Linked DNA regions of Homo sapiens. The protein of the gene in region 2 interacts with the protein of the main gene of each other region in a biochemical or structural test. Each region holds a gene or a part of one and is shown on either strand. Other genes may lie near its edges. The genes, in order: RUFY1, RAB14, RBSN and RAB11FIP5.

The links.
Region 1: the proteins of RAB14 (region 2) and RUFY1 form a complex in vitro, tested with the Homo sapiens proteins (2 studies listed by BioGRID).
Region 3: the proteins of RAB14 (region 2) and RBSN form a complex in vitro, tested with the Homo sapiens proteins (one study listed by BioGRID).
Region 4: the proteins of RAB14 (region 2) and RAB11FIP5 interact in far-western blotting, tested with the Homo sapiens proteins (one study listed by BioGRID).

What each region holds. Positions count from the first base shown.
Region 1 is NC_000005.10:179,595,542-179,602,566, forward strand, and holds part of RUFY1 (RUN and FYVE domain-containing protein 1), read left to right. Parts: intron 1-362; exon of another isoform or gene 363-1,020; coding exon 1,021-1,140; intron 1,141-1,280; exon of another isoform or gene 1,281-1,420; intron 1,421-2,711; exon of another isoform or gene 2,712-2,814; intron 2,815-3,150; coding exon 3,151-3,280; intron 3,281-3,726; exon of another isoform or gene 3,727-3,848; intron 3,849-3,943; exon of another isoform or gene 3,944-4,094; intron 4,095-4,531; exon of another isoform or gene 4,532-4,557; intron 4,558-6,350; coding exon 6,351-6,445; intron 6,446-6,522; exon of another isoform or gene 6,523-6,725; intron 6,726-6,835; exon of another isoform or gene 6,836-7,025. UniProt on the Homo sapiens protein: Activating adapter involved in cargo sorting from early/recycling endosomes. Regulates retrieval of proteins from endosomes to the trans-Golgi network through interaction with the dynein-dynactin complex.
Region 2 is NC_000009.12:121,184,862-121,191,886, reverse strand, and holds part of RAB14 (ras-related protein Rab-14), read left to right. Parts: intron 1-1,155; coding exon 1,156-1,333; intron 1,334-4,867; coding exon 4,868-4,934; intron 4,935-7,025.
Region 3 is NC_000003.12:15,082,127-15,089,151, forward strand, and holds part of RBSN (rabenosyn-5), read right to left. Parts: intron 3,836-7,025; coding exon 3,735-3,835; intron 2,920-3,734; coding exon 2,874-2,919; intron 2,771-2,873; coding exon 2,609-2,770; intron 483-2,608; coding exon 241-482; intron 1-240. UniProt on the Homo sapiens protein: Rab4/Rab5 effector protein acting in early endocytic membrane fusion and membrane trafficking of recycling endosomes. Required for endosome fusion either homotypically or with clathrin coated vesicles.
Region 4 is NC_000002.12:73,088,942-73,095,966, reverse strand, and holds part of RAB11FIP5 (rab11 family-interacting protein 5), read left to right. Parts: intron 1-6,651; coding exon 6,652-7,025. UniProt on the Homo sapiens protein: Rab effector involved in protein trafficking from apical recycling endosomes to the apical plasma membrane. Involved in insulin granule exocytosis. May regulate V-ATPase intracellular transport in response to extracellular acidosis.

The DNA.
Region 1 (7,025 bases), on a different chromosome or scaffold from region 2:
TGTTTGTTCTTGTTTTTTTTTTTTTTTGAGCCAGAGTTTCGCTCTCATTGCCCAGGCTAGAGTGCAATGGTGCGATCTCAGCTCACCGCAATCTCTACCTCCCAGGTTCAAGCAATTCTCCTGCCTCAGCCTCCCAAGTAGCTGGGATTACAGGTGCCTGCCACCATGCCCGGCTAATTTTGTATTTTTGTAGAGATGGGGTTTCTCCATATTGATCAGGCTGGTCTCGAACTCCCGACCTCAGGTGATCTGCCCACCTAGGCCTCCCAAAGTGCTGGGATTATAGGCATGAGCCACCACACCTGGCCAGCTACCGTTTCTTTAATGACAATACCAAGTGCTGATGAGGACACGGAGCTAATGGATCTCTCATACTTTATTGGTAGGAATGCAAAATGGTGCAACCACTCAGGAAAACAGTTTCTCAAGAAGCTAAACGTCCTCTTACCATATGATCCAAATAGAAATGAAACTTATGTCTACACCAAAACTAGTACATATGTTTATAGCAGCTCCGTTCATAACTGCCAAAAGCTAGAAGCAATCCCAATGTTCTGCATTGGGTGATGGATAAACAAAGTGGTACGTCTGTGCGGTGAAGTATGACTCAGCCGTAGAAAGGAATGAACCACTGCCCTTTCAGGACGTTCAGAGAGGAAACAAAAGGCATGAACCATTGATACACATGGAAACTTGGATTGATCTCCAAGACATTATTCTGAGAAAAAGTCAGTCTCAAGGTTATATAATGTATAATTACATTGAGATTACATTCTCAAAAAGCCAAAGCCATATTGTTGCAGGACAGATGAGTGGTTGCCAGGGGCTGAGGTGGGGAGTTTTGGGAGTGGTGGGACCGTCCTGTATTCTGATTGTGGTGGAGCTGAATCTCCACGTGTTAAAACTCACAAGAGTTAATTTTACTGTATGGTAATTTTAAAAATGAATTTCAGCCAGCAAAAGTCATCCTTTCCTTACAAAGATTTGCTTCATTTGCACTCTTGCTGGTGTCGCATCCAGGTTGCAGCACTCGGAGCGGGCGAGGCAGGGGGCTGAGGAGCGGAGCCACAAGCTGCAGCAGGAGCTGGGCGGGAGGATCGGCGCCCTGCAGCTGCAGCTCTCCCAGCTGCACGAGCAATGGTAGGGGCCCTGCAGGGAGCCTGGGCTGGGGTGTGGCTCAGGAGGGACTGGGAAGAACTGGGGACAGGTGGTATCCTGCTTCAGCACGAACGGGAGGAGGGGGGGCGGGGGGGCAGGTGGTATCCTGCTTCACCACTCACCCCTGCAGGGTTCGTATGTTATCCCTAGGGAGCTCCCTCCCCACAGGGCTCCTCACGTGGTCCAGCTCGCCTCCAGAAGATCTGGCCACTCTCAAACCATGGTACCAGGTCACAGCCTGTATCACCCTTAACCACCCTTTCTAAAAAGAAACAGCTTTGTCAGTGTTGAACAGAAAGTCACCTTTCACCTAGCCTTTGCTGATGCAAGCTTCATATAATTTTGTGCACAGTTCATCTACAGATTTTTTATTTTTTAAGTCTCACTCTGTCATCCAGGCTGGAGTGCAGTGGTGCAGTCTCAGCTCACTGCAACCCCCACCTCCTGGGCTCAAGCGATTCTTGTGCCTCAGCCTCCTGAGTAGCTGGGACTACAGGTGTACATCAACACACCCGGCTAATTTTTGTGTTTGTGTTTTGTTTTGTTTTTTTTTTGAGACCGAGTCTCACTCTCTTGCCCAGGCTGGAGTGCGGTGGCGCGATCTCGGCTCACTGCAACCTCTGCCTCCCGGGTTCACGCCATTCTCCTGCCTCAGCCTCCCGAGCAGCTGGGACTACAGGCATCAGCCACCACACCTGGCTAATTTTTTGTATTTTTAGTAGAGACGGGGTTTCACTGTGTTAACCCAGGATGGTCTCGATCTCCTCACCTCGTGATCCTCCCATCTCGGCCTCCCAAAGTGCTGGGATTACAGGCGTGAGCCACTGCGCCCAGCCTAATTTTTGTATTTTTATTAGAGACAGGGTTTTGCCATGTTGGCCAGGCTGGTCTCAATCTTCTGGCCTCAAGTGATCCACCCGTCTCGGCCTCCCAGAATGCTAGGATTACAAGTGTGAACCACCGTGCCTGGCCTATAGATTTTTTGAGATAATATATATGCCAAGTTAAAAGCCTGATGTTGAGAGAAGAGAGAAGAGACATCTTTATTCCCACAAAGAGAGAGCAGACTCCAGGCGGTCCAGCAGTGCCCCCAGGGCCACTCAGCTGGTAAAGGGCAGAGTCAGCTTCAGGCTGAGGCTCCCTCCTGGCCTTCTCCCTCCAGGATCCTTCATTGTCAGTCTGGCTGTAGGTTGTAGAAAGCAGAATGAGGCCGGGCGCGGTGGCTCACGCCCATAATCCCAGCACTTTTGGGAGGCCGAGGCAGGGAGATCACGAGGTCAGGAGTTCAAGACCAGCCTGGCCAACATGGTGAAACGTCATCTCTACTAAAAATACAAAAAATTAGCTGGGCGTGGTGGCGTGTGCCTGTAATCCCAGCTACTAGGGAGGCTGAGGCAGGAGACTAGCTTGAACCCAGGAGGCAGAGGTTGCAGTGAGCCAAGATTGTGCCACTGCACTCCAGCCTGGGCGACAGAGCGAGACTCCGTCTCAAAAAAAAACAAAAAGCAGAATGAATTGGCCAGTGAGGTGGCTCATGCCTGTAATCTCTGCACCTTGGGAAGCTGTGGCGGGAGGATCACTTGAGCCCAGGAGGTCGAGGCTGCAGTGAGCTGAGGTTGCGCCACTGCACTCCAGCTGGGGTGACAGAGCTAGACCCTGTCTCAAAAAAAGAAAAGAACGAATTTTGAGCTTCCTTTCCTCAGGTCTCCATGTCGGGAGGGTTCTGCTTATGTGGTCTAAGTGTTCTAGAGCTCTCTTCCTTCTCCCCTGCGTAAGTGTCAAGTGTGTGCCTGCAGGCTTTTCTCTCCCTGGTTCCTGCTCTTTCTTGTGGAAGGGCAGGTGACCCTGGAGGAGAGGGAAGCGTTGCCGAAGGCTTTAGATGCTCAAGAGGCAATTCAGAGACTTCCCTGTTTCCTGGGCGGTGAATTGGGTTGTGAATCTTCCGTGAAAGTCTCCCACTGAGACTAACTCAAGTTCATTTTGGGAAAACAGCTCAAGCCTGGAGAAAGAATTGAAATCAGAAAAAGAGCAAAGACAGGCTCTTCAGCGCGAATTACAGCACGAGAAAGACACTTCCTCTCTACTCAGGATGGAGCTGCAACAAGTGGAAGGACTGAAAAAGGTGAGGTGGGCCATCCCGGGAGAGGAGAGCCTCTGGCAGCCTCCAGAAACCCCTAACATGCTCCGGGCAGGCTCCTCTCCCCGCACCCTTTGTGTGGGGGCCAGGCGGCTCCAGGGTGTGGGGAGGCTGTTAGGGAGCTCCTGTTTTAGGAGCATAAGACAAAGACAAATCATAAACCACTAAGCCTGCTGGCAGCTCAGATAGAGGCAAGTGCCATGAAGAGAATAAAGCAGAACAGTGTCCTCACCCGTGTGCAAGGGGCCTGGGGAGGGAGCGACCGGTGAGCAGAGGCTCCAGTGAGTTATGCCCTGCAAAGCACCTCTTGGGTGGAGACTGCAGGAGCAGACAGCAGTGTGAGGAGCAAAGAGGCGGCCTCAGGCGGCAGGCAGGAGGAAGCCCTTCATGGGCCCTGGGAGCCAGGGGAAGGAACGTGGGTTTTATTTTACCAGAGTGGGCAGCTGGTGGAGGGACAGGATCCGTTCTGTTTGCGGATGGTCATTGGCTCCTGTGTGGAGAGTGGGTGGTAGGCTCGCAGGAGAGGAAGCTGGGAGGAACCAGTAAACATCTCCTACCACATGCCAGCCTCACCTCAGCCACTGTGCCCAGGGTCGGGTCATCCCTGGGAAGCAGACCGACCCCAGCCCTCCACTTCCCCTACATCACCTCAGTTCCATGGAGGACCCTCTCACTTGGAGGCATGGCCTGGATGCTGTGGGCTTCAGAGGGCGAGAGAAGTGGGGTCCAGCAGGCCTTCACTGTCTGGCTGTGGAACTGGACCTCCCAGGAAACTCCGAGGCCGTGTGGAACATTTGCCCTAATGTAAAATCATCGGCTGTTTTCCCAGAGGGGAGGAGGCTCTGCGATCCTGGATGGAGCTGACTGCAGCCTGGGGCGCTCTGGGGGGCTCCTCCCACGTGGGGATGGCGTGCCCTCTTCTCAGGCCCCTGCGCTGCCGAGCGCTGCAGGAAAACTGAGCCCAAAGCAGACCTCCCCTCGGCACCTGCCCCGGAGGGGCCTTCAGGGCCAGGGTGGCTTCTGGACCTGGATTTTGTTGTGTTGAACGTGGTAATGGACACACTGCACGATTCGAGCGAGTCAGGAAAGGCCCTTTTGATTTCCATTGGAAAGTGCCTGGAGTTGTTGGGGAAGGGAGAGCTTCCTCAAGAGCCAGATCAGGCTTGGAGAGTGGAAGGGAGGAAGTGGAGGGCAGAAGAGGACTTTCAGAAAGTCCCGCCTCATCACGGGGCATACCTCCTTTATTCTGCTTCAGAATGCTTCTGTCAAAAGATTCGAATTACACAATTACAGCCCGCCCCAACAATAGGAACAAAACAATGTCTAATAACCCCAGTTAAGCCACAGCTTTGTGCTTTGCAAGCCTGTGCATGGAAGCAGAAGCTACGGCACAGGGTGTGCAGAGAGCCACCCCGCCACTCGGGCCCGAGCTCCACCGCTGCTCCCAGTGGTCCCAGAAACCCCAGTTACTTTCTGGGTCTCCATCCTGGCCTTAACAGACTGGCTCAAGGTGCACTGGCCCCAGGTGTCAGTGCCGTTGCCCCCTGGGGAACTCCCTCCGTGCAGGGCTCCTCACATGGTCTAGCCAGCCTCCAAGTGGTCTAGCCATGAAATGAGGTCCCAGGTCACCCCCTTCATCATCCTTGACCAGTGCTTTCCAAAAAAGCAGCTTTTTCAGAATTGAACAGGAAACCACCTTTCAAACTAGTCTTTGCTGATGCAAGGTTCGTGTGATTTTGTGTACAGTTCTTCTATAGATTTTTTGAGATAGCAATCTGTTTTGTAAAATGTTTATCTTTTAAAAAGAAGCTCAAATAGGCAAAGCCTCATTTGTCCTATGATGGTAACTTTTTTTTTTTTTTTTTTTTTTTTTTTTTTGAGACGGAGTCTTGCTCTGTTGCCCAGGCTGGAGTGCAGTGGTGTGATCTCGGCTCACTGCAACCTCCGCCTCCCCAGTTCAAGCGATTCTCCTGCCTCAGCCTCCCGAGTAGTTGGGATTGCAGGCATGTGCCACCATGCCCTGCTAATTTTTGTATTTTTAACTAAAGGAGGGGTTTTGCCATGTTGGCCAGGCTGGTCTTGAATGCCTGACCTCAGGTGATCCGCCCACCTCAGCCTCCCAGTGCTGGGATTACAGGTGTGAGCCACTGCGCCCAGCTGAGGGTAACTATTTTTAATGTGGCTGATGAATGTAACTATCCTGTCCCATGTCTCTGTCCCCAGCTGCAGAGCCCTCGTCGAGTGCTTGCCTTTTAGCTGCCCAGTGTCAAGAGTAAGCTAGCAAGAAATAATCTTGAATGACATTAATACAGGACTGCATTTTGCTCTTTTTTTTGGTTTTGTTTTGTTTGAGATGGAGTCTTGCTCTGTCGCCCAGGCTGGAGTACAGTAGCACCATCTCGGCTCACTGCAACCTCCGCCTCCCGGGTTCAAGCAGTTCTCTTGCCTCAGCCTCCCAAGTAGCTGGGATTACAGGTGCCTGCCACCACACCCAGCTAATTTCTGTATTTTTAGTGGAGACAGGGTTGCACCATGTTGGCCGGGTTGGCCTCAAACTCCTGACCTCAGGTGATCCACCTGTCTTGGCCTCCCAAAGTGCTGGAAGTATAGGCATAAGCCACTGTGCCTGGCCACCTTTTGCTCTTGAAAAACATTCTGATCTGCTTGTTGCTCTGGTTGCTGAATCTTTTTTTTTTTTTTAAAGGCCAGTGCAGTGGCTCACGCCTGTAATCCCAGCACTTTGGGAGGCCGAGGCGGGCAGATCACGAGGTCAGGAGTTTGAGACCATCCTGGCCAACATGGTGAAACCCCGTCTCTACTGAAAATACAAAAATTAGCAGGGCATGGTGGCGGGCACCTGTAGTCCCAGCTACTTGGGAGGCTGAGGCAGGAGAATCGCTTGAACCCAGGAGGCGGAGGTTGCAGTGAGCCAAGATCGTGCCACTGCACTCCAGCCTGGCAACAGAGCAAGACCCTGTCTCAAAAAAAAAAAAAAAAAAAAAAAAAAGGACCGTGTAATCCTCTGTCCAGCATCTGGTTGGTTTGTTCATTTTAGGAGTTGCGGGAGCTTCAGGACGAGAAGGCAGAGCTGCAGAAGATCTGCGAGGAGCAGGAACAAGCCCTCCAGGAAATGGGCCTGCACCTCAGCCAGTAAGAACCCCACTCCCCTTGTCTGCCACTGCAGGCACACCAGGCTACCCACCACATCCCTCAGGCCCCAAACCTACCTCCTTTTGGCGAACGGAGGGTGGGCCATTTAGGAGCTCAGTCCGCCGTTCACGGATGAGCTCTCAGGAAGCCCGGCCTCAGAGGGGCCCAGCACTGATCTCTGCTACCCACATGGGGTGTCAGCGAGCTCTTAGTTAATTCAGGAAGCACGTTCATTCCTAGTGACCAGGACACTCCTATTCCTTAGCTTCATATCCAGGGCCTGAGGGAACAGATGGGCAATGAGAGGATCGCTTGGTCAGCCTACAGTCAGGCCAGAGGGAGCAGGGCTGGTTTGGGAACGGAAGCCTGGCACAGTAGAGGTGCACTCACCCGCCTTGCACAGCACAGCCCCCTTCCTTTCGGGGAACTGGCCACTGCATCCGCCAGAGTCTGTCTGTCTCTGCTGCAGGTGCTGATGGGGTGCAGACCCTGGTAGTTCTGCTCCCCTCTGACTTGACAGCTCTCCTCCTTGGTGTCCCAGTCTAGATAGGTTGCTGTGGACGCCTGGGCCTTGGGGTGG
Region 2 (7,025 bases):
CTTTCTGTTACAGGAATTGATTGTCTTATTAGGAGAAATTTGCTGCATGTATCATTTGTTAAATAACAGATTTGAAATACTTAAAATGGAATTCTTTCTACTCTTTCTTGGGTGATAGAAGGGACCAATGTGTTGTAACTGATATGCTAAATATAGTTGAAAGTGTTTCTGTATAGTTGAAATTATTTCTTTGACATTTTTGTGCTGCTTACCACAGAGGTTTGATGTAACATTTTATGAAGTGCCCAGAAGTCTGTGTCCTTGTACTGGAGAATGGTGGGTTTAGGTTTTAAGTGGCCTCATTATAAGGAAAGGACTAATAAATTTGTTAATTGGCTTAGACATATATAACTTGTCATTGTATAATAAGTAGTATATGTTAGCCAGGTGTGGTGGCTCATGCCTGTAATCCCAGTAGTGCTTTGGGAGACTTACGTGGGAGGCTTGCTTGAACCCAGAAGTTCGAGGTTACAGTGAGCTATGCTTGTGCTACTGCACTCCAACATGGGTGACAGAGCAAGACCCTGTCTCTAAAATATATGCATATATATATAAAACATGCTGATTTTCTTTGAGACACTGATATTTTCTGGGATAAGAATCTGTTTGACTAACAACTCCTAGGGTACCAAGACCATTGATTGATCTGTTATAGATAATGATTGTAAGAAGGCTAAATGGTATAATGTTGATATTGTGAAGAATTAATTAAAATCCTTATTTTTACTTAGCAGATTATTTTAGTCGAGGGGTCAGCAAACGGTGGCCAGTGGGGCAAATCCAGTCACTGCCTGTTTTTGTGAATAAAATTTATTGGAATACAACCATGCCTGTTTTACATATTGTCTCTGGCTGCTTTTATGCCTCAGTGGCAGAGTTGAGTAGTTTGTGACAAAGACCTTTTGACCTGCAAAACTTAAAATATTTTCTGCTTGGTCCTTTCTAGAAGTTTGCTGACCCCGATTCTAGTACAGTCACATTTCCCTGACTTCTTACTTCTGGGTGTTTGTTAATTTTTTTTTTAGCGGTAGCTTTAGTCTATTTATAGCCTGTAAGTATTAGTAAGCCATTTGCTTATTTAGTGGATTTTCCCCCTCTAGGCTTAATTTGAAGTTTTCTGAAAATTGGGCTATTACTTTTTTTCCTCCTTAACAGTTATGGCTGATTGTCCTCACACAATTGGTGTTGAATTTGGTACAAGAATAATCGAAGTTAGTGGCCAAAAAATAAAACTGCAGATTTGGGATACGGCAGGACAGGAGCGATTTAGGGCTGTTACACGGAGCTACTACAGAGGAGCTGCGGGAGCTCTTATGGTCTATGATATCACTAGGTAAGAGATAATTTTTCAACCTTCATATGGGGAAAATAAATCTACTTTGGGCATTTAAAAAAAAATTGATAGGCATTTTTTTTAGTTTGTAATTGTATGACTGTGAATGAACTTACTTGTTTTTTATGGTTTCTTAAGTTGCCATGTAAAACTTGATATAACACATTGATATTTTCCAAAAGTTTTTATGACTGAAGAAAAATTTAGGGAGTTAGTTATTGGGTGAAGCTAATAGAAGAATACAGTTCTGAAAAGCAGCTTCAGTTGAATGATTTGAGGAGAAATAATATTTTATATAAAATGTTCTTTTAAGTAGAAAGCAAGCAACTCACTCTTGGGACTTACTCTATTTAGTCTCTAGTGTTAAAGTTTACACCTCTCAAAAGAAGGCCAAGCAAAGAGTTTTGCTAGTCCAGCATGGTAGATTATAAAAAACTTTATGCTTGCATCTGAAGGTGTTTGAGTATTTATTTACTAATTTTTTTTTCTCTTAAAATGGATAGAAATGACTTCAAATACTACATGCAGTAGGTTTAAATTTATTTCAACATGACTGTTTCTGGAATTCCAAAGCACTTGATGTAAAGTAATAAAACTACTGTACATAAAGGTTTGACTTTGGAGAACATGGAAAACTGTGCCACTTGATTAGACCCTGCACTGTTTGTCTACTGTAAGCTAGAAAATGAACTGGATCACCTTTCATGTTGATGTAAAGTGCCAGTCAAAAGCAATGTGACTCTGTTTCTTGGGGGTAAAGATGGGCGAGTGGGACCAAGTGATAATTAGAGTTTAAAGCATATTTCCTTTCGGAAAATGCCTTAAAAGGTTTCCTCTTGATGTGTCATAATGTGCGTTAGCATATTAAGACTCTGGGAAGTTCTGCAGTAAGAAATTCTTTGCTGTATGACTTTATTTAATTTGGTGTTTCCTAAGCTTATTTTATTGAGGAACACACTTTGGGAAATGCTGCCTTAGAATAAAGATATTGACTAATTATAATTATAGTGCCTAAAGTTTTCAGTAAATTCTAGAATTGGGTGGCCTCAAAGGGAAACAAGCCTTAATGCCCTTCATTATAGCCAGGCAATCTGTGATATGATCAAGAGTATTATGGGAAGACTGTTAATAAACCTGGCCGCCTACGCAGAACTGTCTGATTTTATAAGGAATGCATTTCTGAAGACTTCACATAATTAAAAACTCAATAAAATTTAAGTATGGTGATGTGTGCTAAGAATATTGTTTTTGCTTTTAAGCATATCTTTTAAGCATAGTTAATACTTTTGGTAAAATCTGTGTCTATTCAAGTCATCAAAAAAAGTACTTCAGCTGGGAACAACCAGAACATGCATCAACTGATGAATGGATAAACACTGTGATATATCCATACAATGAAATGTTACTCAGCTATAAGGAAGAAGGAAATACTGATACAGGCCACAACATAGATGAAACTTGAAAACATTATGCTAAGTGGAAGAAACCAGACACTAAGAGACACATACTGTATGATTTCATTTATGAAATATCGAGAATTTATATTCTGGTAAATTTATAGAGAAAGAAAGTGGATTGCCAGAGGATGGGAGTGAGTGACTTCTAAGTGAGTTCAGAGTTTCTCTCTGGGGTGATGAAAATGTTCTAGAATTAGATAGTGGTGATCAGTGCACAGGTTTGTAACTATCCTTAAAACAACTAAATTACGTACTTTAAAAGAATAAGCTTTATGATATGTTCATTATATTGTAATAAAAACTGTTACTGGAAAAGAGTACCCGAGGCTTTAGTCAGGCGCTAAAGTGATACTTTATAGTGACTTTGGTGTTGCAGTCATGACAGCAATTTTTTTCTGTTATTCTTTGACATTTTACAAACGTAAAAGTCCCTTTTTATTTTTGTCATTAACTCTCATTGTTACAGGGTGCTTTTCTAAATTGACAGCGTAGCTTGTCGTGACAGTTGTTTTGCCATAACATTTTGACATATCTAGTATTTTAGCACTTTTTTTTTAGTACTAGTACCACCAATTAATATTTGAATAATATTTATTTATAGATTTAAAATTATAATTATAGTGAATATTAAATTAATAACAATTACCAGAATCATTGGCAGAAGTTATAGTACATGTAAGTAATATGGTTTATATGATTTTGGTACTAGGCTTTTCTGTGTACTTCACTCTCTGTGTCAGCTTTGAAATTTTAAAGTTCATCAAAGTCAGTAGAAATGTTCGGACTTGTTTAAGGTTTATGCATGAAGTAGTAAAACATACCTGTTGTATAAAGTCAAGATATGCCAATAATACGAATATCAAACACAGATAAGGCTTGTGCTTTTTAAAAATTGTATTTTATCATTGTTTACTTAGAAAATTCTAAAACATTGGGGGGAAAGGGGCTATTTTGATATATATGACTTTTTTGACATCTAAGTGGTGATTTATGAATAATATGATGTAACACAATAAAAGTCTGACTAAGGAGTTCTTTTCAGTTCTCATTGGGAAAGAACTATATACTTTGAATAACAGATTTTCTATGAGAACTGGCAGCTAGAGATCATGGAATATATTCACAGGACTAAACTAGAAACACTTAAAGGACATGTGGTATTTGTAAAAGAGTTCTAGGCCTGATTTTGACACCAGTTAAGTCTTTATGGGCTTCCGTTTCCTCACATGTTAAACGAGTAAGATAGACTAACATTCTGTGAGTCTATAAATCAGAAACATTTTTAACCTCAAAAATTTTATTATCTTTGACCCCTTTGGTAGATTCTACTGTGTATGATATTACAAATATTTGGGTTTGTTTACTTATCTTAGAGCTTACTTGGCTAGTGCAAATGAGCCTATGAGTTTTTAAACTCTTGCTTGGGCAGTTAGAATTCCAGAATAATTTAGCTGCCTGATAGATAAGAGAACAAAGTTAGGACGAACTTTTTCACTGATATCTGGGGACTTGAATTCTTGTCAAATGTCTTCAAAGTCAATTTTATGCTGTTATAGTTAGCTTGCTCTTTAAATTATTAAGGAAAGGTGAATTGTATGCCAGCTTATAATAGTGTGACTTGGTTTTTAATGAAATTAAAATTTAAAGACAAGCAAAAGTGTCTTCCATTAAATGTGTCATGTTTAGGCATTTTGATACAACTTTGTGCTTTGTGATTGAAAGTCTGTATGATTTCAAAGTAATTTGAGTTTTGACTCCACATTGGCATTTCCATCAATTTACTGTGTTGTTCCTTGCTTGCTTATTGGTCTGTTTACGGTATGCTTTTAGGAGTAAACAATTTACTCCTGACCTGTAATTATCAAAGTTGTTGGATATTGAGTTGTTTATTTAAAAATATTAGGTTTGGCTAGATTTTTGAAAAGTATGCAGTTGTATTTCACAACTACTGTTCTGAGTAACTGGTCAAAGCAAAATTATTATTTTAGGATATGTTGATTAAATATGTATTTTAAATATTTAAGTTTTTTTTCTATAATTATATGGCAGTCACAAATTTAAACTTTTATTTTTGCAGAAGAAGTACATATAACCACTTAAGCAGCTGGTTGACAGATGCAAGGAATCTCACCAATCCAAATACTGTAAGTTAAATGGCATCTTATTACACAGAAAATTTAAGAACTAAGCTAACCCAAAAAGGGAAGCCATTTACTGGTGAGATTTTTGTCTTCAGGTACTAAGAATGAGAGAATTTTTATTGTATTCTTCAATTAGTTGAAGAAAACCTAACAGTTATTTTTCAGTTCTTATTAAACCAGGTTTTGCATTTTATTATACCTAGGTTTTTTGTTCATGTTTGTCATTACTATTATGAATGTAGTGGTGATCTCATGTGAAGACTATGAAATCTGAAATTATGATTTTAAAAGGGATCTGCATTAATTTCATAAAACTTTAGCATTGGAGGATACTGGGCAAAACGTAGAAGAGATCTTTCTGTACTGTTTTTTACAACTGCATGTGAATCTGCGTTACCTCAATAAAAATTTCAACTACAGGAGGAGAATTAAGGATAAAAATTTCAGTCAAAAATAAAAAGGATTCTATATGTGTTAAAACATTAGCTTCTTAACCAGACTGAGATGATATTTATTGAGATTTTAAAGGCTAGCCACCATGCTAGACTCTGCAGTATACAAAGATAAACATGGATCCTTGGTCCCAAAGAGCTTATAGTCTAGCAGGGAGAGAACCAGCAGATATGCAGATAACTGTGCTGCAAAGTAGATTGAAGCACGAATTAGAAATAGAGGGACTGGCACAGTGCTGGAGAGCCTAGGATGATCAGTGCCGTCTGGAGAGAAAGCAGCTTTACAGAGGAGTGGTGTTTGAGCTGGTCCTTGAGGGGTGAGTGAAGTTTCAGTAGATATTGTTGAGGGTATGCCAGGAACAATGTGAGGAAAGACACACTGAGCTGTGACTTGAGTTTCTCAGGAACAAGGCTTGTGTCTCACTTGGCTTTATACCCCCAACATTTGGTAGAGGCCTCCTTCAAGAACTGTGTTATCAGTGGTAAGATGAGCTTTTATCAGGAAATGGTGGTTTAATCATATTGAGAGTCAGTTAACATTGTTTGCCTATCATGCTAGGGACTGTGCCTGAAACTTTCATTTCCATTATCGCATTAAACCCAAGGTTTACATACACACCTATAGATGGGTGTTCATAGCAGCTTTATTTCCAGTAGCCCAGAACTGGAAACCTAGGTGTTTCCCAACCTGGCCATTGACAGGTGAATGGTTAAACAGTTCGGAACATCTCTATAGTGGAGTACTACTAAGCCGTACGTAGGAATGAATTCTTTATATATGCAGCAGTTGAGCTGGTTCTCAAGGGCATCATACCCAGTAAAAAAGCCAATCTCAAAAGTTTACATACTGTATGATTTCATTTAGAAAACATTCTCAAAATGACAAAATTGTAGAGATGGGGAGTAGATTAGTGATTGCCAGGGATTAGCAAAGGGGGTGGAGGGTGGTAGTGGTGTGATGACATAGAGGGCAGCACAGAAGCAGTTTCTTTGTAGTGATAGAACAGTTCTGTATCCTGATAGTGATGATGGAGATCTGCACCTGAGATAAAATTACATAGAACCACCCATGCACGAACGCACATGTGCCTGAGAATGTGTAAAAACTGAAATCTGAATAAGGGCTGCAGATTGTACCAATGTCAGTTTCCTGGTTTTGAGAGTGTATTATAGTTACATAACATCCTACCATTAGGGAAGTTTGGTGAAGGGTACACAGGACCTCACTGTTATTTTTTGTAAGTCTCTGTGACTCTATAGCTATTTCAAGTAAAATATTAAAAACAAAACTCATTGTAGAGGGCCCGTGGAGGAGTATAATAAAATTAACCTTACCGCCCTGTGTCCTTCCTGCCTCATTTATGTGCTTTGAAATAGAACCAGATCAGGAGAAAAAAAATTTCTTGAGTTTTTCTTAAGTGCTCCATTTTCTATAGAATTGCCCTTGATTTCTGTGTAGAAGTTGTGTTCTCTACCATTTTGTTGTGGGCATGTTTTGTATCTCTGTAATTAGCATGCCACTTTATGTCTTCCCTTTCAGGGAGATAAGAAGCCTTATTTGGAGATTCATAGGGAATCAGGAGCAGGGCAGTATTTCTTGTTTTGAGTACCTATCTTGTAATGGCCCTATGCTAGTCATTGT
Region 3 (7,025 bases), on a different chromosome or scaffold from region 2:
CACCTGCTTTCAAGTGGCCAAGGAAGGCCACTTGAAACGAGTTTGTTGCAACACACCCAGGATGACTCTGACTCACACAGGGCCCTAGCTGGGAAATCATAACATGGGCCTTTAACAGGAACTACAAATAATTCAAACGAACAACTTCCCAAAGCATTCTCCAGAATCTGCAGGAGTGTACATAACAAACAGCCAAATCTGCCTAAGAAATTAGACCCAAGACCAGACAGCGCGAATCACCTCGTAGAGCTTCACGATGTCAGGTGTGTGCTCCTTCTCATCAATCTGCTGCTCTCTCTTGAGCAGCGTGTCCTTGCAGTGTGTACAGCAGCGGATCCGGTCATCGTCCTTCTCATCCAGGACCGAGCTGACACTGCTCATGCTGCTGATGCTGCCTCGGCGGGAGCCATGGACACTGTTGGGTGACTGGCTGGGGCTGGTGTGGGTGCTCAGGGACTCCTTGCTGGCACTGGTGAGCTTGTCTGTAACCACAACACCAACAGGCAGCAATGACCCCCACAGCATCCAATTACCATACCCACGACCTCAAGGTGTCAGTCCACAGGTGTTTGATTTGGAGAGTAATAAGATCAGGCTCCAGCTGTGGGCACGTACTGCCCCTCTGCCTTCCTGGTGTCAGACTCTGGTGAGAAAGGACTCCACTGCTGCCCCTCCAAATCCAAACAGCCTTCCCTTTCCACCTGCCACTCTCCTGCATTTGCCCTGTGCCTCCAACACAACAAACATTCTCCCAGGAGACTTTCCTCCACAGCCTTCTCCCTATTCCCAAACATCTGGCTCCTACCCTCTCTGAATGGCAGGTCCTCCAGGAAAGCCTTTTCCAATTCCCTGAGGCAAAAACTATCCATCCTTCCCATCAGTTCCCACCACATTGCCCATTTTGGAGCACTTTCCACTCTTCTCCCTGTGTACAGTTGCATGTACACCCCAGAGCTGCCCTAGGAACCTATGACTCTTTGTGGGTACGAACTGTGTCTTACTCACACTTGTACACTTAACATATCCAGCAGGGCCACCCCACAGCAGCTGCCCAGTAAATGCTGGCTAAAGAGCTCAAGAGAAGAAGGGTGAATAGTGTCCCAAAAAGGCAGCTTATAAAATCTCATGTGAGACAGGGAGTTGGTCTCAGGGAGAAAGTATCAAGGTACAGTGACCTGGTATATGTGAGAGTTGGAAAGAAGAAGCATCTGTTTTTGTCCCCACATTATCCAGACACCCCATGGCCAACAGTGTGCACAGTCAGCAGAACTCTCTAGTGTTGCAAATTTACCCCAAACTTCCCAGAAGCCAATGAGATCATCTTCAGCAACTTCTACTCAGCTTGGTTGCAAAGTCCTGGAGGATCGGGTTCCACCTAAACTTTGTCCTCCACACACCCCCAACTATTCTATTTGCTCATCTATTAACCTACCCTGGGCTTTCCAGAATTCCATGCCTTTGCTCCTACTCTTCACTCTACCTAAAATGTCCTCTTTCTCCATCTCTTTTGCAATCCTACTCATCTTTTAAGGCTCTTCTTGAACATCACCTCCCAGCCCTAAGCATGCATGCTCTCACTGTCCCTGAGCCCACAGCACTCAGCATCTCTCATATTATGATATTAGTCTTTTCTATATGGCAGTGAGTTGTCTGTGACTTATCCCACAGGAAGGGACTAGCCCACTGCTTATATTCAAGACCCTCTTCTCAAAGTCACACTTGCCACTTCCAAGCAGAGCAGACAAAGAGTTGGTCAGCCTCTCCTGAGTTCCTGACAGTCTCTTTCATTGTACATCTCTCTTTAGAAAGCAATTATTTATTTGTGAGTTTATATCCCCTGATAGATGCTAGACTCCTTGGAAGAATGGACAATGCCTTATAGGCTTATAGGCCAGAAATGGGCAAAAAATGACCTGTGAGCCAAGTCCAGCCTCCAGGCTGTTTCTATATGGCTCTCAAACTAAGTATAATTTTCACATTGCTATTTTATTTTATTTATTTATTTTTTTGAGATGGGAGTCTCGCTCGGTCACCCAGGCTGAAGTGCAGTGGCTCAATCTCAGCTCACTGCAGCCTTCACCTCCCAGGTTCAAGCAATTCTCCTGCCTCAGCCTCCTGAGTAGCTAGGACTACAGGCACATGCCACCACGCCAGGCTAATTTTTGTATTTTTATAGAGACAGGGTTTCAACATGTTGGCCACGCTGGTCTCAAACTCCTGACCTCAAGTGATCCGCCTGCCTTGGCCTCTCAAAGTGCTGTGATTACAGGCATGAGCCACTGTGCCCAGTCTAGTGTTCACATTTTTAAAAGGTTGTTTAAAGAAAGAAGAAATGTCACAGCAACCATATGTGGCCCACAAAGCCTAAATGTATTTACTATCTGATCCTTTACAAAGTTTGCCAATCCCTGTTATAGACCACTGTATCCCTGGCCCCTAGCATAGTACCTAGTCTGTAGTGGGTTTCACAGAAACAGCAACTCAATGAATGAAGATTCCCATGAGCCATTAATTTAACAAAAAGGTTCCACGATCCCAGTGGTAATTAGCAAATAAGCTAGGCCCAAAAGAAGATGAGGGTCCAGGGCCCCACCTCCAAGTCACCTACTTGCCAAGGGAAGGCTGATGAGCTCCATACACTTCTTGCACATAATAGACCCGCAGAGGCGGCAGTGGTGGCGGCGGTTCCGGATGCTGAACTTATTCCCACAGTCTGGACAGAAAGGGACATCCTGGTCGTTGACCCAAGGCACCACAGACTTTTCTATTGCTTTGGGAAGAGCAAACCAACAAGAAAGCAGGCCATTTTAAAGAGAGCTTTGGTCAGGGAAAAAAAGATAATAAGATGAATGTGAGCAAAGTTTTAAAGTTACCTCGAATCTTTGCAGACTCAGTATTTGTTCTGTCAAATGCAGTGAGCTGACCGGAAGAAAATAGTGCCAAATGAAATTAACCAGGTGATGTATACATGCTCCACACTTTCCAATACATCAAGTGGGAAATTAGCACATTTGCATTCCTCAAGTCTCATCTGTCATCCCCAACGCCACAAAATCACAAAAACAATTTCACATGGGACAGGGTATTAGTTTTGCATCTAGAACCCACCTCGCTTCCTATAACCCACTTCTAATCTCTTTATTGTCAGTTACCCATTTTAGCAATAACCAGGGGTAGGCAAGGATGGGTAAGGGCAACGACTGAAAGCAACAGAAAACTCTCCATTCTCCACGGTGCTCCTGGACCCTAAAACTGGCCACATATTTCTGCCTTACAAAGTACACATAAAGAACTGTACTTGTGCTTGCTACTATGCCCAGCACACAATCCAGGTTACACACAACAAGCACAACTAGGATGAAAATACACCCGTGAGACCTGGTGACCACTTCTTTGTTTGCCATCACACACTACACCTCACTGGATGATTGTGCCTGGGACACCCAAAAGAAGAATCTGAAGGAAGAAAGGTTTTCCAGCACCTGAGTGGGATTCATAGGTGGGAAAAGGGAAGCTAAGCATGTGGCAAGTTTGTCAACCTGGGCCATTCTCTTAAGGAATGCTGGCCCAGGCTAGAACTGTCCACCATGTCCTTTGCACCTCTCTAGAGAAGGTGTTTCTCTGCCACCATCAGATGTATATGATATATACAACACAGGCTATAGAAATGTGATTATTTTTCCCCAGAAAATGTGTATTTGTAGAAAAAAATGTTTTAAGACAACAAAATTTACCTTCTCTAACCTGATTATTAGTTTATTGACTTCCACAACATAGTGGTCAATTCTAGCAGCTCGGTGTTTTTTGAAGTCGGAAAGATGGCTTCTCACAGCACCTAGAGGGAAGGAAGGTAGGGAGACAAATGACTTATAGTTTCTCTGAGGGAGCCTAGTCTCTACCTTGCCTCTTATCCCAGTGAATTTCAAAAGCAGGTTGGTCAACATAGCGAGACCCCGTCTCTCTCCAAAAAAAAAAAAAAAAAAAAAAATAGTCAGGCATGGGTATGTACGCCTATAATCCCAGCTCCTTGGGAGGCCAAGGCGGGAAGATGGCTTGAGCTCAGGAGCTGGAGGCTTCAGTGAGCTATGATCCCACCACTGTACTCCAGCCTGGGTGACAGAGTGAGACCAACTTCAGAAAGAAAAAAAAATATATTTCAAAAGCAAGTAAAAACTCTAGGATTTTAGAGCCTTACCAAAAATTCAAAAACCAGGAAAGCAAATGGAAGAAAATCTGCTAAATTGTTAACCGCCTTTGGAGGCCACCAAGTACCATATGAGAGACCTGAGAGTAGAGCAGATAAGAGCATGGACTCTGGAGTCAGCCTGTGCTCAAGTTTCAATTCTGCCACACACTGTGTAACCTTGGACACATTACTTAACATCTCTGTAACTCTAAGAGTACTCAACTATCAAATGGAATAATAATGGTATCTACTTCACAGAGTTGTTAACGATGATTAAATAAGTTAAAATTTGTAAAGTCTTAACTGACTCTCATGCCAATGTTAAATAAACAGGGTGGGAACATTATGGGTGATTTAAACATTTTTGAATTATCTTATTGTTTTATACTTTATAAATTTGATACAATATGGTTTTTCCTCAGGATAAGGACAATTCTCAAAATGGCCAAAAAAATGTAAATGCTGGTAGATTCCCTTGTGGGAGATAGTTAAGCTGATACCTTCCTCAGTCCAGCAGCCAAAACCCAGGACAAATGTCTGCAACACAAATAGCTTACTGTCTGAGTAACCTGAAATATCCCCTGCTCAGTCTCACCTGTTCCAGAAACATATTGTCCTCAACCCTCCCGGCACTCAGTGCATGTCCTCTTCCCAATGATCATCTATTCATTTATAGACTATAATGTAACAGAATTTGTCACATGCCATGCTTTTAAAAAATTTTTTAATTGCCAAATAAAAATTGCATATATTCACCGTGTACAACATGATGTTTTGAAATATTTATACACTGGGAAATGGCTAAACAAGCTAATTACCATATGCATTACTTCATATACTTACCACTTTTTGTGGTGACAATACAAAGTCTACTCTCACTGATTTTCAAGAATACGAGATATTTTTATTAACTATAATCAGGCCAGGTGCGGTGGCTCATGCCTGTAATCCCAGCACTTTGGGAGGCTGAGGAGCATGGATCACTTGAGGCCAGGAGTTCAAGACCAGTCTGACCAACATGGTGAAACCCTGTCTCTACTAAAAATACAAAAATTAGCTGGGCATGGTGGTGCACGCCTGTGGTCCCAGCTACTCAGGTGGCTGAGGCACAAGAATTGAACCCAGAGGCAAAGGTTGCAGTGAGCCAAGATCACAGCAGCACACTTGAGCCTGGGTGACAGAGGAAGGCTGTCTCAGAAAAACAAACAAACAAAAAACTATAAATCACCACCTTATACAACAGATCTCTTGACTTATTCCTCCCGGCTGAAATTTTGTATCCTTCGATCAGCATCTCCACATGCTATACTCTTTATTTATTTTTGAGACAGAGTCTCGCTCTGTCGCCCAGACTGGAATGCAGTGGCGAAATCTCCAGGCTCACTGCAATCTCCACCTCCCAGGTTCAAGCAATTCCCATGCCTCAGCCTCCCAAGTAACTTGGATTACACACATGTGCCACCATGCCAGGCTAATTTTTGTATTTTTAGTAGAGACAGGGTCTCACCACATTGGCCAAACTGGTCTCAAATTCCTGGCCTCATGTGATCTACCTGCCTTGGCCTCCCAAAGTGCTGGGTTTACAGGTGAGCCACCGCACCTGGCCACACATGCTATACTCTTAACCATCCACATGTCTTTTCTTCCCTAATCATACTCTAACATCTAATTAAACTTTAATTTAGAATTCTTAGGGGTGACCATAAATATTAACTGCTAAAATTTGCCATTCATTTGACCTACAATTTGTGATTTCAGTTACTGCAACTGGCAACTTAATCAGAAAATCACCCTAGTAATCTCACATTGGCAATCATGAAACAAGGTATCACAAACAAGCTATCATAAATAAATATTAACTTCTAAAATTTGCCATTCACTTGACCTTCTACAATTTGTGACTGTCTTCAGTTGCTGCAACTGGCAACTTAATCAGAAAATCACCCCAGTAATCTCACATGGGCAATCATGAAACAAAGCTAATAAGAATTCATGTGTCCAAAATTTCTCCTTCATGTTTTGGATTGGCTTTCATATGTATCTCATAATTACATATGTATAGTATTATTATTATTTTTTTTTTTTGAGACAGAGTCTCGCTCTGTCACCCAGGCTGGAGTGCAGTGGTGCAATCTCGGCTCACTGTAACCTCTGCCTCCTGGATTCAAGCAATTCTCCTGCCTCAGCCTCCCGAGTAGCTGGAATTACAGGCATGTGCCACCACACCTGGCTAATTTTTTTGTATTTTTAGTAGAGACGGGGTTTCACCATATTGGCCAGGGTGGTCTCAAACTCCTGACCTTGTGATTCAGCTGCCTCGACCTCCCAAAGTGCTGGGATTACAGGCGTGAGCCACTGCGCCCGGCTGTATAGTATTATTTTTAAAGCAATTTTCTCCTGCAATAACAAAAATGTTTCCATTCTCCAATACAGTAGCAAATAGCCACAAGTGGACACAGAACACTTAAAATGTGGTTAGTGTGTGCTACAGGAAGTGACTTTTAATTTTATTTCATTTAAATTTATTTAAACTTAAATAGCCCATGACTGGTGGCTACTGAATGGACAGCACAGTTGTAGGACTTTCCTTATTCAAAGAGACACCTTCTATAACAGCACTAAAAAGATACAGTAGATGAGCCTGGGTAAATTTCGCTTTCCTTCTTGGAGCTCCAGTTTCCTCATCCATAAATGGGAAAAAGGACCACTACTCCACAAGGCTTTTGTGAAAGGTGAACAAGATCATAAACATGAAAATTGAATAAATCACAAGGGAATGATAAATAAATAAAGGAATAATTACCCATTTCATGGACAGAAAATATTTTATTATATTAAT
Region 4 (7,025 bases), on a different chromosome or scaffold from region 2:
GCTGCTCTCGGACAAGGTTTTGAGGGGCTAAGGACAGGACAAAACCCTGAGGTCCCCTCAGTGGCATCTCAGGGCTCTGTGCTCTGGGATTGTGCCAACCTTTTGAAAGGGGGTCTGGTCTTCAGGGTCTGTGATGTGTAGCCAGGCCTTTACTGGCCTCTGTCTTCTCAGGGTACTCAGGGCAGGAGTATATGCATTCTGCTTTTCTGAAAGTTGCTAAACCTTAAAGGTTAAGGACATGGGCTTGGAGGCTGGCATTTTCATGTTCAAGTTCCAGCTCCATTACTTACTAGCTGTGTGGCCCTGGGCAACTTACAAACCATCTCCACAACTTAGTTTCCTCATCTGTAAAATGGGCCTCCCATCTCCTGGGCTGGTTGCATGGATAATAAAAGAGCTGCAGAGCCAGGCACACAGTGAGCCCTCAGCAGGGTCAGCTCTGGCCATTCTCTAGCCCCCTCATGTGCAGCCCTCTGCTCAGGTGTGGCCTCTGGGCCAGCAGCAGCATGGGTAGCTGGGAGCTCTCTCAGGTCCACCTACACTTTGGGTATCAGAATACACATTTTAACAAGATCCAGTGATTTTTTTTTGCACTTTGCAGTTTGAGAAGCACTGATGTGTGTCTTCTGAAGAGCAGCATCAGTAGCTGCGTGTGCCTCTTCAGGTGCAAGGAATTTTCTCTTACTGTGCCTTTTCTTACTGTGTCCATCATGTCCTGGCTGCAGAGGCACCTGGGACAAGTCCCAGATAATCACCATCTTCATCAAAACCCTTGTGTCCTGAGCATGTGCTGGCTGGGCCTTGGAGAGTTCAAGTGCCCCAGATGGTGCCCCTGACAGAGAGATGAAGTCAAGGTGGGTGCTTTGCAGGTGGAGCAGCTTAGTTCCTGCAGTGAAGGATGTGCCAGTTAGTGATATATGTGCTGCAGGCAGCCCGGACTCTGAGCACCAGGTGGGTGTCAGGGGAATTGTATGGGGGCAGAATCACTGTCCTTCCTCCTGGTTTGGTGAGAGTGTTGTTTCTCCAGTGGTTTCTGATCTAGGAGGCCTAATTCATCTTAACACTCTTAATTTCTAGAAAGTGCTTAATGCTGCCTGCTCCTCCCCAGTGTGTTCCTTTGGTAACTTACCCCCTCCTGGGGGAGGGATGAGTATTTCTAGGGTCAGTCCTCTCAGAAGCAGCGTGTCCTCGGGACTTGGGAAGGCAAGCCTTACTGGGCAGGAGAAAGACACAGGTTTCTCCTGGGTACCGATTGAGTGTCCTTAAGGACAAGCCCAGGTGGAGAGCCCAGGTGGCCGCTGACCTTAAAGTGATGTAAAGCGTTAGGGACCATCCTTGTGGTTCCCACATGGGGTCTGGGTGAATTCACTCACCTGTGGGGCCCCACCCCCAAACCCACTGAGAAATATAGATAACCAGGCCGGGACCTTCTAGTTCAGTAAGTCTGGGTGGCGTCTTGGGTGGATTTATATCTGTATATAAATCCTGCACCGATGCATAGCAGGTTTGGGTGCTACAGCTGTGGAGCTGTGAAAATGAGAGCTGTCTTGTGAGCCATTGTCTAGATGAATGTTGGGGCCTTGGTCACACCCTGATTGATTTTGGCCATGTCTCTGCCCTGGATGAAAGTGACAGGTCAGGCCTCAGCTTGGGCTTTGGAGTTCCTAAGCCCAGTGCCCCAGTCAGCTAGGCCTGGTGAAGGGCACAGAGAGGGAGAAAAAACCTTGATCAGGTAGGGAGGAAGGAACAGTAGCAGAATCTCCAAAACTGGAGACCAGGGCCTATCTCTTGCACAGCCAGACTTGGGAAGTTGAGGTTGGATTTTTTTTTTTTTTTTTTTTTTTTTGAGACAAAGTCTCACTCTGTTGCCCAGGCTGGAGTGCAGTGATATAATCTTGGCTCACTGCAACTTCCGCTTCCCAGGTTCAAGTGATTCTCATGCCTCAGCTTCCCGAGCAGCTCAGATTACAAACGTGTGCCACCACACCCAGCTAATTATTGTATTTTTAGTAGACACGGGGTTTCGCCATGTTGGCCAGGCAGGTCTCAAACTCCTGGCCTCAAGTGATCTGCCCGCCTTGGCCTCCCAAAGTGCTGGGATTGCAGGCATGAGCCACCATGCGCGTCCGAGGTTGAATATTTATTAAAGGATCTGGCACGTTCCCTTGAAGGCTAGGCAGAGCGATCGGCGTCAGGGATTCAAGAGCAGGAGTCCTAAGAGCTCACGGTCGTGGGAGAGAGTGAGAGGATAAGCTGGTTTTGCCAACCAGGCTTGGCGTGCCTTAGCCTCCCAACAGCCAAGAGGATGGTTGTCCCCACCTGAGGGCCAAGGAAGCGGAGGCTGAGGGAGGTGACCTGGTCAGTGGGGGACCCAGCACTCACCACCATGCCCTGCTGTCAGGCGCATCCAGATGAGAGCTGAGAGAGGGCCCTGCAGGGTTGTAACAGCTCCAGACTGTGCATGCATGATTTCTTTACTTTGGAGCTGTGTGCCCCAGGGGATACTCAGTCAATATCCACAAGAAACACAGTCCAGCAAGGGAGACCTTGGGTGCCCAGGACATGACAACACCAGGGGGTCCTGGGGCACGGTGCTGCCAGATCTGGCTGTAGAGTGAGTTTGGTTCAGAGTGTGTATGCCTGGTCAGAAAGAGGAGGGACTGGGCCAGGCCAGCAGGATGGTGGCAGCTGAGGGAGCTTCCCAGAGGAGTGGGACTTGAACTAGGTCATAGGACCCTGCTGTCATATTCCCCGTGGGGGCTTCAGTCTCTAGGGATGAGGTGCTCAGAGCCCATTTGCTCTGCTGCGTGTGGGGCTCTGTGAAAAGAAAGCCTCCATTTGTTTTCATTGCGGATTCCTCAGCCCCCCTCGACAGTGTTCATAGTTTTCCATTCTCCAGTGGACCTCCATGGTGCCCGACAGGTCTGTGGGGCTGTCTGGTCCAGGCACAGGGAAGTAGCACCTCTAGGGAGGGGGAGGATGTGGCCATCTCAGCTCATGTAGGCCATACTTCTGGGAGAAGGTCTGCTCTGGTTGAGTCCCTGGGGTGCCCAGGGTGGCCAAGGTGCCAGGCAGTATCCCATTCAGTCCTGCCCTTGACTGGGTTGCAGAGGGAGGTGGGGCTGGAAGGGAGGTGGACGAGTGATGGCAGCTGGGGTCCAGAGGTAGGTCCTGGCCATTCTCCATTTCACTGTGCTCTGGATGGGAGAGCCTAAAAAATATTCAGGGAAGCTTTTTCTTTTTCCTTCCGTGCTTCCTTGAAAAACAAGTCCAGGGAGAAACCCAAATTCCCTGTGGGGGAGGGCTGGGCAGAACAGGAGAAGGGGAAGTGACCTTATAGGGGAGAGAGGCCCAAAAGGTCCTTGTGGCAAAGGACCTGAAACTCGGCCTCCCGCCTTCCTCTGAGGGCTGGGAGGCAGAGGAGCACGGCCCATTTTGTGGCTCAGGAAGCTGAGATGAGATAGGAGCAAGAGCTTTCCCTTGTCTCTTTTTCCTATTACCACAGTAATATATGCTCCTTATAAAACATTCAAATAGGACAAAAATAGACAATGTAGGAAGTGCTAGTTCCCTGCAATCTCACCACAGGGCCCCGGTCCCCTCAGGTAATTGCATTACCGCTGTGGTGTGTGCAGTGTGAGTAGCTGGGGCTGAGGGCCCCTGACCTGTCTGCCCCAGCAAAGGCTGGCTGTGCTTGCTGATCCTAGTTACTCAGGGCTTGGGCGGTTTGGGGCTGGAGTCCATACCCTTCTCTTTTGCCCTACCTCCCAGGACTTTCCTGTGCTAGATAGGGCCTAGCCCAGATTTAGGGAAAGTGACTAGGGCTTGGCCTCTAAATAGGTAAAGGGTCAGGCCCACGGTGGTCACTGGGCTGAGAACGTAGAGGTGTGAGGCTGTTGATGCTGCTGGCTGGTCTTTCTGTCAAACTTCCTCTCCTGCCCCACAGACACCCTCACATACATCCTCCAGTCTGTCTGTCTCAATTAGCCTCTCCTCCCCTCACTTCTGCCCGTGCCTTATGAGAGAGGCACCCGCTCGGGCATTTTCTCTGTCCGCCCTGCCTGTGGCACCATCTGTTCCTACCCGGCCTTCTCAGGGGATTGTCTCTCAGGTTTGGGAGGGAAAACCAAAGTCTAGGCTCAGGCCGCTCAGGCTGCGGAGTAGGTCTCCACGGAGGGGACGGGCCATAGCCCACCAGGATTTCGTCATGATGGGCTCTTCTATAGGGATGTAGAAGAGTCAGAGGTGCCCCAGGAAGCCTTTTTAAAAAAACTTCAACATTAAAAAATAATCAAAATACTACCACCACTACCACCAAGCTTTTGCTGTGACTTAATTCTGGATCTTTGGATGTATAGGGACTTTTCATACAAAGGCTCCCCACACCCCACTCTGTGTCCACCAGAAGCTCAGGGAGCTGGCATTGTTGGGGGCAGAGCTCAGGCGGGAGGTGGATCCTGCATCACTGACTGCGGCTTGGGTAGCTCTGTGTGCGTGTGTGTGTGTGTGTATGTGTGTGTGTGCTGTGCAGTCACCAAGGGACTTTGAGCCCTTTAGTGACCAGCCTGACCACTACCACCGGGCTTTATTCCACCTTCATGCTCGATTGGCTGGGTCTGGAATTCCAGGCTAGTGGAAGGCTTTTCCCTCAGAAATGTGAAGACATTCCTTCATGTGGTGCCCAGTGTTGCTAAGGAAGACTCCAGTGCTGTTCGAATCCTTTCATGCCTGGTGTTCTAAGCCTCATAGTCATATCTGTTGGCATGTGTCTGTCTTAGTTCATTGCGCTGCATACTTGTAGGACTGTTCTAGCATTCATGTTCTTCAGTTCAGAAAAACATTCTTGTATGATTTCCTTCATAGTTTCTTCCTTTTTGTGTTCCCTGCTCTCTTTTTTTTAGTTAATAAAGTCTATTTTTCAGAGCAGTTTTAAGTTTACAGAAAAACGAGTGAAAAGTATAGAGAGTTCCCATCTACTCCACCCACGCCCCCACCGCCATTTCTTCTGTTAACATCTTGCATTAGTGTGGCATGTTTGTTGTATTTGAGAGCCAATATCAACACGTCATTGTTAACTAGAGTCTATACATTATGTTAGGGTTCACTTGCTGTTTTGTGCATTCTGTGGGTGTATAACAATGCATGTCCACCATTACGGTAGCATGCAGGATAGTTTTTCTCTCCTGAGAAGTCCCTGTGCTCTGCCTATTCATCGCTCTGTCCTCTCTTCAATCCCCCAGCAACCACTGATCTTTTCACTGTCTCCATAGTTTTGCCTTTTGCAGAATGTCAAATAGTTTTGTCGTGCAAGCATGAAGCCTTTTCAGATTGTCTTCTTTCACTTATGTATGTAAGATCCATCCGTGTCTGTTCATGGCTTGATAGCCTATTTATTTTTATCATTAAGTAGTATTCCATTGTCTGGATGTACCACAGTTTGCTTATCTTTTCACCTACTGGAGGACACCTTGGCAGCTTCCAAGTTTTGGCAATCATGAACAGAGCTGCTATAAACATTTGTGTGCAGGGTGTTTCTTTGGACATAAGTCTTTACCTCAGTAGGCAAAGTACCAAGAAGTGTGATTGCTCCTTGTGTGATCGGAGTTTGCTTAGTTCTCTAAGAAACTGCCAACCCCTGCATAAGAACATCTCTCCCCAGTAGGGCGGGCCCCAGCCACCCTGTGTGGTGGCCATGTGTGTTGGGGGCTGTCTCTGTGTCTCTCTGGGCACAGTGGGTGTGCACCGGGAAGAACTTAAGCTTTGGAGGGCTGGACACCTGGCTCTGAGTCTCCACGGATGGGTTCCTTTACCACTGAGCCTCACCCTCCTGATCTGTACAATGGGGTAGTACCTCTTACCTCATATGCTTTTTGGGAGGTATGTGCGGGAGTGAGGTAAGAACCCTCATGCTGGTCGTAATGCACCATAGATGCTCAACAGATATGAGCGCTCTTCGTCTTTCCTGGGTCTCTTTCTGCCATTCTTGTCTGTTCCTGCATCTTGTAGAGGTATTCCTGACAGGGCTTGGGGTGAGTCAGTGTGTGAGTGAGGTGTGTGTGTGTGTGTGTGTGTGTGTGTGTGTGTATACATACATGAGTGTATGCACTAGCATTCCTGTGTTCCTGGCCCTGGGCCTCTGGGTGAGCTGTTCTTTCCTGGGCTCACGGTGGCTGGGAGCAGAGCTTTGGCTGGGACTGGCCAGAGGAGATGATGTCAACAGGGAGAAATGTGGGTAGGTCTGTCTGTGCTGGGGCCTGGAGATGGGAGGGCTCTCCCAGGCCCAGCCTCACCCCTCTGGGCCTCAGAGTTTCAGATGTAGGGGAGATGGGGCAGAGGAGAGGTCTCTGAGCACCAGGAGAAGGTCCTGGGGTGGGAGGAGGCATGGTGTGGTAACCGCCGCCCTACCTGGTGGCACCCGAGGAGCTTCCCCACTCAGGATGTGGTTTTCTCCATCATGGAAATGTTTTGGATAGTTTCTCAGCTGCATCTGAAGCCTGGAAGCCCAGGCCGATGGGTCAGAGCAGGAGCCTTTGGGGAGAGGCTATCAGTGGCTCTCAGAGCAAGGAGGGGTCTGGGCAGTGCCTGGTACCGGGCGGGAGCCAGGCTCCCTGGGCCCGTGACTGAGTTCTGCCTGCTCCCCTCTTCTCACAGGTGGTACAAGCTGCACTCCAAGCCAGGCAAGAAGGAGAAGGAACGCGGCGAGATTGAAGTCACCATCCAGTTCACGCGCAACAACCTGAGCGCCAGTATGTTTGACCTGTCCATGAAGGACAAGCCAAGGTCTCCCTTCAGCAAGATCAGGGACAAGATGAAGGGCAAGAAGAAGTATGATCTGGAATCTGCCTCTGCCATCCTCCCAAGCAGCGCCATAGAGGATCCTGACCTGGGCAGCCTGGGCAAGATGGGCAAAGCCAAAGGCTTCTTCCTCCGCAACAAGCTGCGCAAGTCGTCCCTGACCCAGTCCAACACCTCGCTGGGCTCGGACAGCACCCTGTCCTCAGCCAGCGGGAGCTTGGCCTACCAGG